Linked DNA regions of Homo sapiens: region 2 is linked to region 1. Evidence: fine-mapped expression QTL. A gene starts in region 1. The other region holds a variant in brackets. All regions are shown on one strand. Distances are from middle to middle.

Region 1 (8,258 bases):
ACCTGGAGGACATTATGCAAAGTGAAATAAGCCAGACGCAGAAAGACAAATACTGCCTGATCTCACTTACTACCTACATAGCATCTAAAAAGTCAAATTCATAATACCAAAGAGTAGGATGATGGTTGCCAGGAGCTAAAGATGGTGGTGGATGGGAGGTGTGATTGTCAAGGGGTGAATGGAGGGAGATCTCCGTGACGTTGGAATAGATCGGGATCTCAGTTGCTATAATGTAAATCTATACACGTGATAAAACGACAGTATGACAGAACTATGCACACGCTTTATACCAATGTCAATTTCCTGGGTTTGATATTGCATTATAATTATGTAAGCTGTAGCCATTGGGGTAAACTAAATAAAAGATAGATTTGGGGGCTGGGCACGGTGGCTCACACCTGTAATCCCAGTGCTTTGGGAGGCTGAGGTGGGCAGATGGTTTGAGCCCAAGAATTTGAGACCAGCCTGGGCAACATGGTGAAACCCTGTCTCTGCCAAAATACAAAAGTTAGCCGGGTGTGGTGGACCATGCCTGTAGTCCTACCTACTTGGGAGGCTGAGGTGGGAGGGTCACCTGAACTCAGGGAGGTAGAGGCTATAGGGAGCTGTAATTATGCCACTGCACTCCAGTCTGGGTGACAGAGCAAGACTCTGTCTCAATAATAAAAAAGATACACCTGACCTCCCCATACCATTTTTGCAACTTCTTGTAAATCTATAACAATTATAGATATTAATAATTAATAACTATAAACAATAATTATAGATTCACAAAAAGTTGCAAGAAATGGCAAAAATAATAATAATTATTATTTTATTTATTTATTTATTTATTTATTTATTTATTTATTTTGAGATGGAGTCTCGCTCTGTCGCCCAGGCTGGAGTGCAGTGGCGCGATCTCTGCTCACTGCAAGCTCCGCCTCCCAGGTTCACACCATTCTCCTGCCTCAGCCTCCTGAGTAGCTGGGACTACAGGCACCCGCCACCACGCCCTGCTAATTTTTTGTATTTTTAGTAGAGATGGGGTTTCACTGTGTTAGCCAGGATGGTCTCAATCTCCTGACCTCATGATCCACCTGCCTCGGCCTCCCAAAGTGTTTGGATTACAGGCATGAGCCACTGTGCCCGGACTTTTTATTTTTTATTAAAAAAATATTTTTGAGACAGGGGCTTGATCTGTCACCCAGGCTGGAGTGCAGTGGTGTGATCTTGGCCCATTGCAACCTCTAACTCCTGGCCTCAAGTAATCCTCCTGCCTCAGCCTCCTGAGTAGCTGGGACCACAGGTGTGTGCCACCCCACCTGGCTAATTTTTTGTGTTTTTGTAGAGACAGGGTTTCACTGTGGTGCCCAGGTTAGTCTTTATTATTATTATTATTATTATTTGAGACAGGGTCTTGCTCTGTTGCTCAGACTGGAGTGCAGTGGTGTGATCATGGCTCACTGTATCCTCGACCTCCTAGACTCAAGCAATCCTCCCACCTCAGCCTCCCAAGTAGCTGTGACTACAGGCACCCACCACCACGTCTGAGTAACTGTTAAATTTTTTTGTAGTGATGGGTGCCACTATGTTGCCCAGGCTGATCTCAAACTCCTGGGCTCAAGTGATCCTCCCACCTCAGCCTCCCAGAGTGCTGGGATTACAGCCGTGAACCACTGCACCCGGCTGATTATTTTTGTAAAAAGCTTATTTAAGCTATATAGACAACGCACCCGCAGTTTGGTAGGTAGATAATATTCACATTAACTAATTAGTGTCTTGCTTTCTTAAGAGAAAGCGCTGCCAAACACGGAGCTACTACATTTACACGGCACTGACAGGCTGTGAGGTGTTGCACAGAACTTACTTTTCCAAATAAACTAAACTTTTTTCTCTAAATAATGTTAAAAAATTCACCAAGCATTTTACCAAAGTGTATTAAAATTACCCTTGCTTTTTTTTGCACAAACAAACAAAAACCCACGGCAGAATTCCGTATCGGGGTCTGCCCGGGGGTTGGGGACCTCCCAGGCAACCAGCCATCCATATTGAATCAATTTTCTTTCCTTAAAGAAAACTCGGGTTTTATGGACAAAAAATGTTATGAACAAGTCAACTCTATGAACAACCTTTATTAAAGTAACTCTGGGAGGAAACACCCTCTCCTCCCCAGCGGGTCCATGTAGCCTTCAGAAAAGATTCCGCAGGCTCCCCAGAGGGCTGCAGAGCCAAGAGCGGGGTCCAAGCGTCCTCGGATGAAAATTCAGCTGAGTCACAATTGTTTCGGAGTTTTCAGTAAAGAAATGTATTTTTGCACCCATTTTTTCCTTGGATGGGTACAGACTTTCTTGCCTCTTTTGGTAGTGAATCTGTGAAAAAGAGACACGGATAAGTCAATATTGAGACTCTTTGCCTCCTGGGGTGGGATAGAAAGGGAAGGAGGGGCAGCTCTCTCACTAGTCTTCTGGCCTTGCCACAAACTTGTTGCTCTCTGTCCCTGTCCCCTCTTCTCCTGGGCCTTGTCTCCCTCCTCTTTCCTATCTTGATTTCCACTGGAAACTATGCCTCCAGACCCACCTCTACCAGGTACCATTTACCGTTTTCCACCAGTTCTAGCCTGCAGCATGTAACCTGCACCAGGACACTTAATTTTTTTTTTTTTTTTTTGAGACGAACTCTCACTCTGTTGCCCACATTGGAGTGCAATGGCATGATCTCAGCTCATTGCAACCTCCATTTCCCAGGTTCAAGTGATGCTCCTGCCTCAGACTCCCAAGTAGCTGGGATTATAGGCACGCATCAGCACACCCAGCGAATTTCTGTGTTTTTAATAGAGACAAGGTTTTGCCATGTTGGCCAGGGTGGTCTCGAACTCCTGACCTCAGGTGATCCGCCTGTGTTGGCCTCCCAAAGTGCTGGGATAACAGGTGTGAGCCACCACGCCTAGCCTTTATTTTGTTTTATTTTTTATTTTTTTTGAGACGGAGTTTCACTCTTGTTGCCCAGGCTGGAGTGCAATGGCGCGATCTCGGCTCACCACAACCTCTGCCTCCCAGGTTCAAGTGATTCTTCCGCCTCAGCCTCCCAAGTAGCTGGGATTACAGGCATGCGCCACCACGTCCAGCTAATTTTGTATTTTTAGTAGAGACAGGGTTTCTCCACGTTGGTCAGGCTGGTCTCGAACTCCCAACCTCAGGAGATCTGCCCACCTCAGCCTCCCAAAGTGCTGGGATTACAGGCGTGAGCCACCACGCCCGGCCTATTTTATTTTTTTTGAAACAGTTTCTCTCTTGTCACCCAGGCTGGAGTGCAGTGGCGCGATCTCTACTCCTGCAAACTCCGCCTCCCGGGTTCAAGCGATTCTCCTGCCTCAGCCTCCGGAGTAACTGGGCTTACAGGCCTGCGCCACCTCACCTGGCTGATTCTTTCATTGTAATAGAACAGCTTTGTTGGGATATAATTCACACGGCACATACAGTTGACTCTTGAACAACACGGATTTGAACTCTGTGGGCCCACTCATAGGCAGCCTTTTGCCAACCAAAGGAGGATAGAAAATACAAAACTCGGTGATGCAAAAGCTGCATAAATTCAGGGGAAATTGTATGCCAAAATCCTGGCACCAATCCCCTGTGGTTACTGGGGGATAACTGTAATTCACTCTTTTTTTTCTCTTTTGTTAGGGATGAAGTCTCTCTGTGTTACCCAGGCTGGAGTGCAGTGGTGCGATCATACCTCACTGCAGCCTTGAACTCCTGGGCTCAAGCGATCGTCTAAACCTCCCCACCATGTACAACTCCACCAATTTAAAGGCTATAATTATAATTCAATGGTTTTTAGTATAGTCATAGATTATGCAACCATCACCACAATCAATTTTAGGATATTTTCATCACCCCAGAAAGGAACCCTGCACTCAACATGTCATTTAATTGTTAGCCACATTTTCAAGGTTATTCATCATAGCTGATGATTCCTGAGCTCTTACTTCACTGTGAGTTTATTAAAAGTGGGGATTGGCTGGGTCCAGTGACTCACACTTGTAATCCCAGCATTTTGGGAGGCTGAGGCGGGCAAATCACATGAGCTCAGAAGTTTAAGACCAGCCTGGCCAACCATGGTGAAATTCTACTAATAACACAAAAATTAGCTGAGCATGGTGGCATGTGCCTGTAATTCCAGCTACTTGGGAGGCTGAGGCAGGAAAATTGCTTGAACCCGGGAGGGGGAGGTTGCAGTGAGCCAAGATCGTGCCATTGCACTCTAGCCTGGGCAACAAGAAAGAAACTCCGTCTCAAAAAGAGAAAAAAAAAGTCAGGTTCTACCTGAAGCTCAGAGTCACACTTGTTAGTGTGCAGAGGTGGGGTTTCCAGGTTCCCATCCCAAGGCTCATCCTGGGGGTCTGCCCAGCACCCATCCTGTTGCATGACTGATGGGGCCCCAGAAAGTACGTCCGAGAAATACTCACATCACAGCCCGCTGGGAGCAGCTGTTACTGGTGAATTCATAGCTTCGCACCCAGGTCCAGGGAAGGGGCTTGTGGCTGTATTGGAAGCAGCAGGTCTTGGATATGTCACTCCCACCTAAAAATCAGGGAGAGGAAGGGTTTGGAGATACTCATTTCCATCCACTCCCAGGCGGTCCGGGAAGGAACCCCAGGAGGGGAATGGGCCAGCTACGTACGTGTGGCAGTTCCAAGGTGGAGACTCAGGAGGGAGGCCAGGAGCACAGCAGAGGCCAAGGAGAGGCCCATCATGATGCTGCAAATCAGGCCCTTCTCAGGTTTCTCCCAAACTCCTCCTGCCTGATCCCCTTTTATGAGACTGAGACGGCCCTGAAAACAATTCCAGAGAATTCTGTGGTTGGGAACAGAAGCAGCACTTTTGACCCAACAAAGGAAAAGTAAACTAATACTCATAGGAATGAAATTAGACAGTGAAGAAAGATAATCTGGCACTGGGCGTGGTGGCTCATGCCTGTGATCACAGCACTCTGGGAGACCGAGGTGGGCGGATCCCTTGAGGTCAGGAGTTCAAGATCAGCCTGGCCAACATGGAGAAACCCTGTCTCTACTAAAAACACAAAAATTGGCCGGGCATGGTGGCAGGCAACTGTAATCCCAGCTACTCCTGAGGGTGAGGCAGGAGAATCACTTGAACCTGGGAGGTGGAGGTTGCAGTGAGCTGAGATGGCACCACTGCACTGCAGCCTGGGCGACAGAGTGAGACTCTGCCAAAAAAAAAAAAAACAAACAAACAAACAACAAAAAAAAACAAGTGACAGATGGTAGAGATCCCTTTATTGAATTCCATCAACAGGGACAAAAAAAGAAGAGAATTTGGGAGAAGAGCAGGGGCAGGCAGGCCCCAGGGAGTCTGGTTCCCAGTGCTGTTGGCTGAGTCAACACTTTCTTGTTTAAAAAGAAAAAGCAGAGGAAATTAAGTAATATTCCAGTGAACTGAACTAAGTTACTTTATAGCACAATTGGTTGTTGAAGATAGGTTTCTGGCTCTTGGGCAAAGTTTTGTTTCCTTTCTAAGCATTGCTTATCTCTGTGTGGAGCTCTGGATGGTCTCAAGATGTGATCATAGAGTAGCCCAACCTCGACAATGGATATTTAAAAACAGGGTCCAGGCAGGTGCCAGCCCATCTTCTTGGGGCCACACCTGTAGGGCCAGGGCTGGCTGGGGGCATTTGAGAGATCTAACAGATCCCAAACCTGACAGATCATCACAATCACCCGAGGCTTAAAACAAAACAAAACAAACAAACAACAACAAATAATATATATATATAGTGAGAGAGAGGGCCTGGTCAACATGGTGAAACCCCGTCCCCACTAGAAATAAAAAAATTAGCCAGGCACGGTGGCGGGCACCTGTAATCCCAGCTACTAGGGAGGCTGAGGCAGGAGAATCGCTTGAATGCAGGAGGCAGAGGTTACAGTGAGCCGAGATCCCGCCATTGCACTCCAGCCTGGGCGACAGACCAAGACTGTCTCAAAAAAGAAAAAAAAATAGAGATGAGGTCTCTCTATGTGGCCCAGGTTGGTCTTAAACTCTTGGCTCAAGTGACTGTCTCACCTTGGCCTTCAAAAATGTTGGGATTACAGTGAGCCACCACGTCTGGCCATACCTGGTCAATTATTATTATTATTTTGTGTGTGTGTGTGGGGCCAGTCACAGTGGCTCACGCCTGTAATCCCAGCACTTTGGAAGGCAGAGGCAGGGGGATCGTCTGAGGTCAGGAGGTTGAGATCAGCCTGGCGAACATGGTGAAACCCCGTCTCTACTAAAAATACAAAAATTAGCCGGGCTAATTTTGTGGTGGCTCATGCTTGTAATCCGAGCAACTTGGGAGGCTGAGGCAGGAGAGTCACTTGAACCTGGGGGGCAGAGGTTGCAGTGAGCCAAGATCGTGCCATTGCACTCCAGCCTAAGAAAAAAGAGCAAAACTCTGTCACAAAAAAAAAGAAATTTGTAGAGCCCAAAGGTTGCCAGGCTGGTCTCAAACTCCTGGCTTCAAGGCGATCTGCTTACTCCAGCCTCCCAAAGCACTGGGATTATAGGGGAGAGCCACCACACCTGGCTTCAGCCAAATTTTTAAAAGAACTTAACAGAAGTTTGTGATAGTCAGAGCTGTTGTAGGTGGGAAGAGGATAGATGGTGAGTTGCCTGTCACTCAAACCAGGCACAACAGTCTGGATGATCATGAGAGGGTGGTTTGTTTTTGTTTTTGTTTTTATTGAGATGGAGTTTTGCTCCTGTTGCATACGCTGGAGTGCTATGGCACAATCTCGGCTCACTGCAACCTCTGCCTCCCAGGCTCAAGCAATTCTCGTGACTCAGCCTCCCAAGTAGCTGGGATTACAGGCATGCGCCATCACGCCCGGCTAATTTTGTATTTTTAGTAGAGATGGTGTTTCACCATGTTGGTCAGTCTTGTCTCGAACTCCTGACCTCAAGTGATCCACCTGCCTCAGCCTCCCAAAGTGCTGGGATTACAGGCATAAACCGCCATGCCCAGCTGTTTGTTTGTTTTTTTGAGACAGAGTCTTGCTCTGTCATCCAGGCTGGAGTACAGTGGCACAATCTTAGCTCACTGCAGCCTCCACCTCCTGGGTTCGAATGATTCTTCTGCCTCAGCCTCTGAGTAGCTAGGATTACAGGCATGCACCACCATGCCCGGGTAATTTTTGTATTTTTAGTAGAGACAGGGTTTCACTATGTTGCCCAGGCTGGTCTCGAATTCCTGACCTCAACTGATCTGCCCGCCTCAGCCTCCCAAAGTGCTGAAATTGCAGGTGTGAGCCACCCCACCCGGCCTATTTTTTTTAATTAAATAAAAATTAACTGAGTATGGTGGCATGTGCACCTGTAGGCCCAGCTACTCAGGAGGCCGAGGCAGGAGGGTCACTTGAGCCCAGGAGTTCAAGGCTGCAGTGAACTATGATCATGCCACTGCACTCCAGCCTAGGTGACCGAGCAAGACTCTGTCTCTTTAAAAAAAGAATTATTGGTCGGGCCCGGTGGCTCACCCCTGTAATGCCAGCACTTTGGTAGGCTGATGGGGGTGGATACCTTGAGGTCAGGAGTTCAAGATGAGTCTGGCCAACATGGTGAAACTCCGTCTCTACCAAAAATACAAAAATTAGCTGAGCATGGTGTCGCGTGTCTGTAATCCCAGCTACTTGGGAGGATGAGGCAGGAGTATTGCTTGAACCGGGAGGCAGAGGTTGCAGTGAGCTGAGATCACGCCACTGCACTCCAGCCTGGGCAACAGGGCGAGACTCCATTTCAGAAGGAAAAAAAACAAATTCTTTTTTGACTGAAATCTATATTCCCATTTCTTCTACCTATTGACCCTGTTCTTTACAAAAATGCTTAACTTGTCTTTTATTTTGGAAGATAAAGGAAATTGAGGCTTAGGCAGATTTGAAGATCGTTGTTTTTATTTCAGTTCCTCCAGCAGGCCCTGAGACAAGGATTCTGGTGCAAGTCCTTTATTTGGGAGGTGATTCCACGGGAGCCCCAGGAGAGGAGGGGGAAACTGAGGCAAGGAAGCAGAGGCAGCAACGCAAGGGGAGTTATTAAGCAGGGCATGGCGTGAGCAGCCAAGGAGTTCTGGGAGCCTGTGCAGGGCAGACCTCAGAGCTGGCTTAGCGGGTGGGTCAGGTACCCCCCAGTTCCCTGCTGTCACTGGTTGAGGGCTGCACCCTACACTCCTGGCTTGTGTTATGATCAAACTGAGGGTTCTCTGTGACCAGGAACAAGGCC
Region 2 (8,396 bases), 22 kb after region 1:
TGAGAATATTTCTCTCTCTCTCTCTCTTTGCCACTCTTCTGGGAACATCCATTTCTCTTTTTCTCTTTTTTTTTTTTTTTTGCCAGAATGTTTCTCATTTCAAGAGAAAGTGCTGGCTGCCTACAGCATGTCAGACCCCAGCTGTTTTCCATACTTCTGCCTTTCCCTGCCTTTGGCAATGGAGTCTATCCTCTGAAAATTCTCTTCTGCAATGAGAAACCCCCACACTTTGCCCCCCTCCCCACCACCAAACAAGGCCCATTACTTCCTTCCAAACCCCAACCTGGCAGGTTCCCAGAAACAAAGTCCCTGACCCTTACCTGGGGTCTTTGGCTCAGCCTCAATTCCAGACTCCTGGCTCATCCTCCAGAGCTTGCTAGTGCTGCTCCAGTCCCTGGGATCTGCGGTACCCCTGGGACCCCAAGTCAAGACCTCCTCTTGGCTTACGTAAGGACATTTACAAACAGCCATTCCCAAATAACTCACATTTCTGAGGTTCTGGGTGGACAATGAATTCTTGGGGTATATTATTCAACCCAGTACAGATGTATTGCAGAAATAATCTCCCATCCCACAGATTGCCTTTCTACGTCTTACGGTTCTCCCTCCCTCCCTCCCTCCCTTCCTTCCTTCCTTCCCTCCATTCCTCCCTACCTCTCTTTCTTTCTTTCCCTTCTTTTCTTCCTTCTTCCCCAGCTCTCTCCCTCCTTTTCTCTTTCTTTTTCTTTCTTTCTTTCTCTCTCTCTCTTTCTGTCTCTCTCCCTTCCTTCCTTCCTTCCTTCCTTTCTTTCTTTCTTTCTTTCTTTCTTTCTTTCTTTCTTTCTTCCTTCCTTCCTTCCTTCCATCCTCCCTCCCTCCCTCCCTCCATACCTCTTTCTCTCTCTTTCTTTTCTTTTTCTTTTCTTTGCAGTGGTGCAATCATAGCTCCCTGCAACCTCAAGATCCTGGGCTCAAGCAGTCCTCCCACCTCAGCCTTCTGAGTAGCTGGAACTACAGGCATGCACCACCATGTTCTGCTAACTTAAAAAAAAAATTGTAGAGATGGGGTCTTGCTGTGTTGCCCAGGCTGGTCTTGAATTCCTGGCCTCAATCTCCTGGACTTAAGTGATCCTCCCACCTCAGCCTCCCAAAGTGCTAGGATTACAGGCAGGAGCTGCTGTGCCTGGCCTCTTATGGATGTCTTCTAATGGATTTTAATATAGTTTTATTTATCAGCTTTCCTCCTGTATGGGTAAGTGATTATACCCTGTTTATAAAACATTTGAGGCTGGACATGGTGGCTCACACCAGTAATCCCAGCACTGTGGGAGGCCGAGGCAGGCAGATCACTGGAGGTCAGGAGTTCAAGACCAACCTGGCCAATGTGGTGAAATCCCGTCTCTATTAAAAATACAAAAATTAGCCAGGTGTGATAGTGAGTGCCTGTAGTCTCAGCTACTCGGGAGGCTGAGGCAGGAGAATAGCTTGAGTTTGGAAGGTGGAGTTTGCAGTGAGCCAAGATTACGCCACTGCACTCCGGCCTGGGCGATAGAGACTCCATTTCAAAAAAAAAAAAATTTGAGTCCCTTCACCCAAGAGGCATGTCTGTCTATAAATGGCTTCTGCTGAAACTCCTCCTTTTTTTTTTTTTTTTCTTTTTTTCTTTTTGAGACAGAGTCTTGCTCTTGTCACGCAGGCTGGAGTGCAATGGCACGATCTCGGCTCACTGCAACTTCTGCCTCCCGGGTTCAAGCAATTCTCCTGCCTCAGCCTCCCGAGTAGCTGGGATTACAGGCACCCGCCACCACACCTGGCTAATTTTTGTATTTTTAGTAGAGACAAGGTTTTGTCATGTTGGCCAGGCTGGTCTCAAACTCCTGGCCTCGTGATCCACCCGCCTCAGCTCCCAAAGGGCTGGGATTACAGGTGTGAGCCACCACGCCTGGCTGAAACTCCCTCTTGGTACTTGTGTCCGAGGCCCCCTCAGTCAGGACCTTGAGTATGCCCTTGATGTCAGCCCATAGCTGGCGGCCCTGGCTCCTGCTCTCTTCCCTCCAGGCCCTTCCCTGTGGCTGAAGCCCCTTCCCTGTACCCTCCAGGTTGCTTCCTGGGCTCCAGATTCCTCTGTGTGGATCTCCCAGGAGCCCCCATCTGCTGTGGTTCCCAGGGTCTAGGCTGCCATCTGGGCTTCCCACTTCTCGGCCTCTCAAAGTGCTGGGATTACAGGCGTGAGCTGCTGTGCCAGGCTGTAAGTTTTAATGAGGTCATAAGGATGGGACTCTGATCCAACATGACAGATGTCCTTATAAGAAAAGAAGCCAGGCCTGGGTGACTCATGCCTGTAATCCCAGCACTCCCAGGCGGGAGGATTGCTTCAGCCCAGAAGTTCAACAAGTAAGTAAGGTTTTTTTTCCATCCTTTTTTTGTTTTGAGACAGGGTCTCACTCTGTCACCGACGCTGGAGTGCAGAGGTGTGATCACAGCTCACGGCAGCCTCCACCTCCCCAAGCTCAAGTGATTCTCCCACCTCACCCTCCCAAGCAGCTGGGACCACAGGCATGCACCACCACACCTGGCTACTTTGTTTTTATTTTTATTTATTTATTTAGAGACAGAGTCTTGCTGTGTTACCCAGGCATGTTACCCACGATTTCAGCTCACTGCAGCCTCTGCCTCCTCTGGCTCAAGCAATCCTCTTACCTCAGTCTCCCGAGTAGCTGGGACTACAGGCATGCGCCACCACACCCAGATACTTTCTGTATTTTTAGCAGAGATGGGGTTTCACCGCGTTGGCCAGGCTGGTCTCAAACTCCTGACCTCAGGTGATCCACCCACTTCGGCCTCCCAAAGTGCTGGGATTACAGGCGTGAGCCGCCATGCCTGGCTGTAAGTTTTAATGAGGTCATAAGGATGGGACTCTGATCCAATATGACAGGTGTCCTTATAAGAAAAGAAGCCACCAGGCATGGGTGACTCATGCCTGTAATCCCAGCACTCCCAGGTGGGAGGATTGCTTCAGCCCAGAAGTTCAAGACCAGCCTGGTCAACATAGTGAGATCCCATCTCTATAAAAAATAAAAATTAGCCAGACATAGTGGCGCACGCCTGTAGTCCCAGCTACTCAAGAGGCTCAAGCGGGAGGCTCCCTTGAGCCCAGGAGTTTGAAATCAGTCTGGGCAATGTAGTGAGACCCTATCTCTACATAAAATACAAAAATTAGCCGGGCGTGGTGGCACATGCCTGTAGTGCCAGCTACTTGGGAGGCCGAGGCAGGAGGATTGCTGGAGCCCAGGAGTTCAAGGCTGCAGTGAGCTGTGGTCACACCACTGCACTCCAGCCTGAGCAACAGAGCAAGACCCCTATCTCAAATAAATAAATAAATAAATAAATAAATAAATAAATAAATAAATAAATAAGTGTAACAGGGAGAGAGTAAAGAGGTTTTGTTTTGTTTTTTGTTTTTTTTTTTTTTAGATGGAGTCTTGCTCTGTCACCCAGGCTAGAGTGCAATGGTGCGATCTTGGATCACTGCAACCTCTGCCTCCCGGCTTTAAGCAATTCTCCTGTCTCAGCCTCCCAAGTAGCTGGGACTATAGGTGCCCACCACCATGCCCGGCTAATTTTTGTATTTTTAGTAGAGATGGGGTTTCACCATGTTGGCCAGGCTGGTCTGGAACTCCTGACTTCAAGTGATCTGCCTGCCTTGGCCTCCCAAAGTGCTGGAATTACAGGCATGGGCCACCGGGCCCGGCCAACAGTAAGGAGTTTTAAGCAGGGGAGTCACACGATGAGAGGACTCATTGATAAAGATGAGTCTGGCTGCTGTAAGGACACAATACTAGAGAGGGACAGAGGGATGTGGAGGCCCAGCATGAAGCCTCCTTTTGTCTCCATAACCCTTCAGCACAGGGTTCTGGAATGTATTTATGTGGCAAATGTTTGCTCGTTCTTTTTTTCTTTTTTTTGAGATGGAGTCTCGCTCTGTCAGGTTGGAGTGCAGGTCGGCTCACTGCAACCTCCACCTCCTGGGTTCAAGCAATTCTCCTGCCTCAGCCTCCCGAGTAGCTGGGACTATAGGTGCGCACCACCACATCCAGCTAATTTTTGTATTTTTAGTAGAGATATGGTTTCACCATGTTGACCAGACTGGTGTCAAACTGCTGACCTCAAGTGAGCTGGCCACCTCAGCCTCCCACAGTGCTGGGATTACAGGCATAAGTCACTGCATCCAGCCAAATGTTTGCTGAATTCTTACAGCCCCAGCAATGTCCAAGGCTCTGGAGACACCGTGGTGGACAGGACACCATCCCTGTCCTTAAGAAAGGTGAGTATAGAATTTGAGCATAAGTGGAGAAAGAACAAAGAGAGAAAGAAAGAGAGAGAGAGAGAGAGAGGGAGAGAGGGAGGGGAAGGGGAAGGGGAGGAAGGAAGGGGAAGGAAGAAAGGAAGAAGAAAGGAAGGAAGGGAGGAAGGGAGGGAGGGAGAGAGAGAGAAAGAAAGAAAGAAAGAAAAGAAAAGAAAAGAAAAGAAAGACAGAAAGAAATAAAGAAAAAGAAAGAAAGAAAAGAAAGCGGGCCAGGTGAGGTGGGTAACACCTGTAATCCCAGCATTTTGGAGGGCCTAGGTGGGCAGATCACTTGAAGTCAGGAGTCGAGCCCAGCCTGGGTAATATGGTGAAACCCTGTCTCTACTAAAAATAAAAAAATTAACTGGGCGTGGTGGTGCCCACCTGTAATCCCAGCTACTCGGGAGGCTGAGGCAGGAGAATCTCTTGAACCCAGCAGGCAGAGAATGCAGTGAGCCAAGATTGTGCCACTGCACTCCAGCCTGGGCGACATAGTGAGACTCTGTCAATAAAAAAAAGAAAGAAAGAAAAAGAGAGAGAGAGAGAAATAAGAGAGAAAGAGAAAGGAAGGAAGGAAGGAAGGAAGGGAGAGAAAGAGAAAGAGAGACCGCGTGCAGTGGCTCACACCTGTAATCCCAGCACTTTGGGAGGCTGAGGTGGGTGGATCCCTTGAGGTCAGGAGTTTGAGACCAGGCTGGCCAACATGGTGAAACTTGTCT[G/C]TACTAAAAATACAAAAATTAGCCAGGTGTGGTGGCACGTGCCTGTAATCCCACCTACTTGGGAGGCTGAGGCAGGAGAATTGCTTGAACCTGAGAGGCGGAGGTTGCAGTGAGCCGAGATCGCACCACTGCACTCCAGCGTGGGCAACAGAGCAAGACTCTATCTCAAACAAAAAAAAAAGAAGAAGAAAAAAGGAAAAAAAAAAAGAGAGAAGTAAGGAGTGGATGTAAAGAAACTCCCTTGTCTGCTGTCCCAGTGAGACCTACACATGGGGAGCTAGTGAGGGGAGCCAGAGGAGGCACAGTGTGTTAGGAGGGGTTCCCCAGCCCTGGGAAGCTCTTCCTGGAGGAAGCAGCATCCTGGCTTGTGTGCAACAGAGACCAAGCCGAATCAGGAGAATAAAAACATGTTTCGGCCGGGCGCCGTGGCTCACACCTGTAATCCCAGCACTTTGGGAGGCTGAGGCAGGAGGATTACTTGAGCCCAGGAGTTCAACACTAGCCTGGGCAATATAGTGGAACCCTGTCTCTACAAAATCTTAAAAATCAGCTGGGCATGGTGGCACATGTCTGTAGTCCCAGCTACTTGGGGAGCCTGAGGTGAGAGGATCGCTTGAGGCCAGGAGGTTGAAGTTGCAGTGAGACACGATCACACCACTGCACTCCAGCCTGGGTGACGGAGTGAGACCCTGTCTCAAACAAACAAACAACTAAAAAACCGTATCTCCTGGAGTTGGAAGAAAAACAAACTTTTTTGTTTGTTACCAGTTAATCCATTTACCCTGAAAGCGGTTCTAGGAGAGTGGTTTCTTTATTTCTCTTTCTTTCTTTCTTTCCTTCTTTCTTTCTCTCTCTTTCCTTCCTTCCTTCCTTCTTTCTTTCTTTCTCTCTTTCTTTTTCTATCTTTGTTTCTTGATCTCTTGCTTTCTTCTTTCTTTCTTTCTTGATCTCTTGCTTTCTTCTTTCTATCTTTCTTTCTTGCTCTCTTGCCTTCTTCTTTCTTTTTTTCTCTTTCTTTTTTTTTTTTTTGAAACAGGGTCTCCCTCTGTCACCCAGGCTGGAGTGCAGTGGTGCAATCTCGGCTCACTGCAGCCTCCAGCTCCTCGGTTCAAGCGATTCTCCTGCCTCAGCCTCCCAAGTAGCTGGGACTATAGGCATGCACTACCACGCCTGGCTAAGTTTTGTACTTTTAGTAGAGACAGGGTTTCACCATATTGCCCAGGCTGGTCTCGAACTCCTGACCTCAAGTGATCCACCTGCCTCGGCCCCCAAAAGTGCTGGGATTACAGGCATGAGCCATGACACCCGGCCTAGGGAGGTTTTCTTATCCCCTTTTACAGCCTAGAAAACTGTGGTTTGTTCAAGGCCACAAAACTCATGGATGGCAGAACCAAGGCTCAGAGCTGGGTCTGTGTCATGCCTGTGCCTTGTCCTGCCTCTGACAGTCTCAGAGTCCTACCCCCCAACCCTTAACGCTGAGAATGAACCTTCAGGGTGGCTTCCGCCAGGCTTTGTCCCGAAGCTAAAACTACTCTGTAGTTACAGGACCATATCAGAGCCAAGGGCAAATAGCAGCTAGATAGATAAGGGGAGGCATCTGCGGGTTAGCAAAAGTCAGCAAATTCCCTTCCAAACTTTCAATTGGCCAATAAAAAAAGGGAAATGCAGCCCATCCCACCAGCTTCGAGAACATAACAACGAACTGCCAGTTGCTTGGGAGAAGCGCAGCTCTTCCCCATTCTGAGTCTTGAGAGATGTTTCCCCAAGCAAGGTCGTGACCGGGCATGACCCATAGCAAGAACTGAATGTTCCTTTGGGCTTGAGATTATTCAGAAGTTAGAAGGCTGGGGAGAGAGAGACTTCCAGGGAATGCCTTTTTAGAGGCTGAAAAGCACTCCAACCTGGACAACAGAGTGACACTCCGTCTCAAAAAAAAACTAGTGGCAAAAGGCAGAAGGTGGGATTTAGTAGGAGCCACGGGAGGAGGGGTCTGGGGTCCTCTTGCTGGCCTGCTTACACTGAGCATTCGGGGAGTATTAGTCTCCCCTACTCAGCTACGGTCAGTAACAGAATAATTTCCTCTAAATCTTGCCTGTATCTCAGGCAGAATAAGCGACTGGAAGACCCAAATGACCACCTTTCTTTTGATGAGACACGGTCTTGATCTGTTGTCCAGGTTGGAGTACAGTGATGCAATCACAGCTCGCTGCAGCCTCCAACTCCTGAACTCTAGCGATCCTCCTGCCTCAACCTCCTAAGTAGCTGGGACCACAGGCACACATCACTATGTCCTGATAATTTTTTTTTTTATTTTTAATTTTCTAGACATGGGGGTCTCCCTGTGTTGCCCAGGCTGGTCTCAAACTCCTGGGCTCAAAGCATCTTCCCACCTTGTCCTCCCAAAGTGCTAGGATACCAGGCACGAGCCATCACACAGGGCCACGTACAGCTTTCTAAGAAGGAAACTTCTGGCCGGGCGCGCCCGTATTTCTAGCACTTTGGGAGGCCCAGTTGGGTGGATAGCCCAAGCTCAAGAGTTTGAGACCAGCCTGGGCAACACGGTGAAAACCCATCTCTACTAAAAAATCCGCTGGGCATGGTGGCATGTGCCTGTAATCCCAGCTACTGGGAAGGCTGAGGCACGGGAATTGCTTGAACCCAGGAGGCAGAGGTTGCAGTGAGCCGAGATCGTGCCACTGCGCTCCAGTCTGGGCAACAGAGGGAGACTTGGTCTCAAAAACAAAACAAAACAAAACAGTCCAGGCGCGGTGGCTCACACCTGTAATCCCAGCACTTTGGGAGGCCAAGGCGGGCAGATCACAAGGTCAGGAGATCGAGACCATCCTGGCTAACACGGTGAAACCCCGTCTCTACTAAAAATACAAAAAAAATTAGCCAGGCATGGTGGTGGGCGCCTGTAGTCCCAGCTACTCAGGAGGCTGAGGCAGGAGAATCGCTTGAACCTGGGAGGCAGAGGTTGCAGTGAGCTGAGTTCACCACCACTGCACTCCAGCCTAGGCGACAGAGCGAGACTCCATCTCAAAAAAAAAAAAAAAAGAAGAAGGAAACTTCCATAAGTTCTTTTGTTTTCTTAGAGATAGGCTCGCTTTTTTTTTGTTTGATTTTTCTGAGACAGAGTCTCACACTGTCGCCCAGGCTGGAGTGCAGTGGCACCATCTCAGCTCACTGGAACCTCCGCCTCCAAGGTTCAGACAGTTCTCTTGCCTCAGCCTCCCGAGTAGCTGGGACTACAGGAATATGCCACCACATGTGGCAATTTTTTGCATTTTTAGTAGAGACAGAGTTTTGCCATGTTTGCCAGGCTGGTCTCAAACTCCTGGCCTCAACTGATC

What was found. PIP is the estimated chance that this variant, and not a neighbour inherited with it, causes the effect.
Region 2: its variant is the best candidate, but not a certain one, in a credible set for the expression of CCL26 in tibial nerve (GTEx, PIP 0.85).

Annotation. Positions count from the first base shown.
Region 1 is chr7:75,767,439-75,775,696 of GRCh38, forward strand. CCL26 (C-C motif chemokine ligand 26) reads right to left here and starts at 4,773. Exons shown (of 3, transcript NM_001371938.1): 1 at 4,666-4,773; 2 at 4,451-4,565; 3 at 2,100-2,351. The coding sequence starts at 4,738. The coding sequence ends at 2,255. RefSeq lists a silencer at 5,293-5,587.
Region 2 is chr7:75,789,397-75,797,792 of GRCh38, forward strand. It overlaps a transcript of CCL26 not described here. Among named protein-coding and RNA genes, the nearest start is that of CCL24, 20 kb to the right of the region's middle. The variant G/C (reference allele first, on the strand shown) is at 5,044.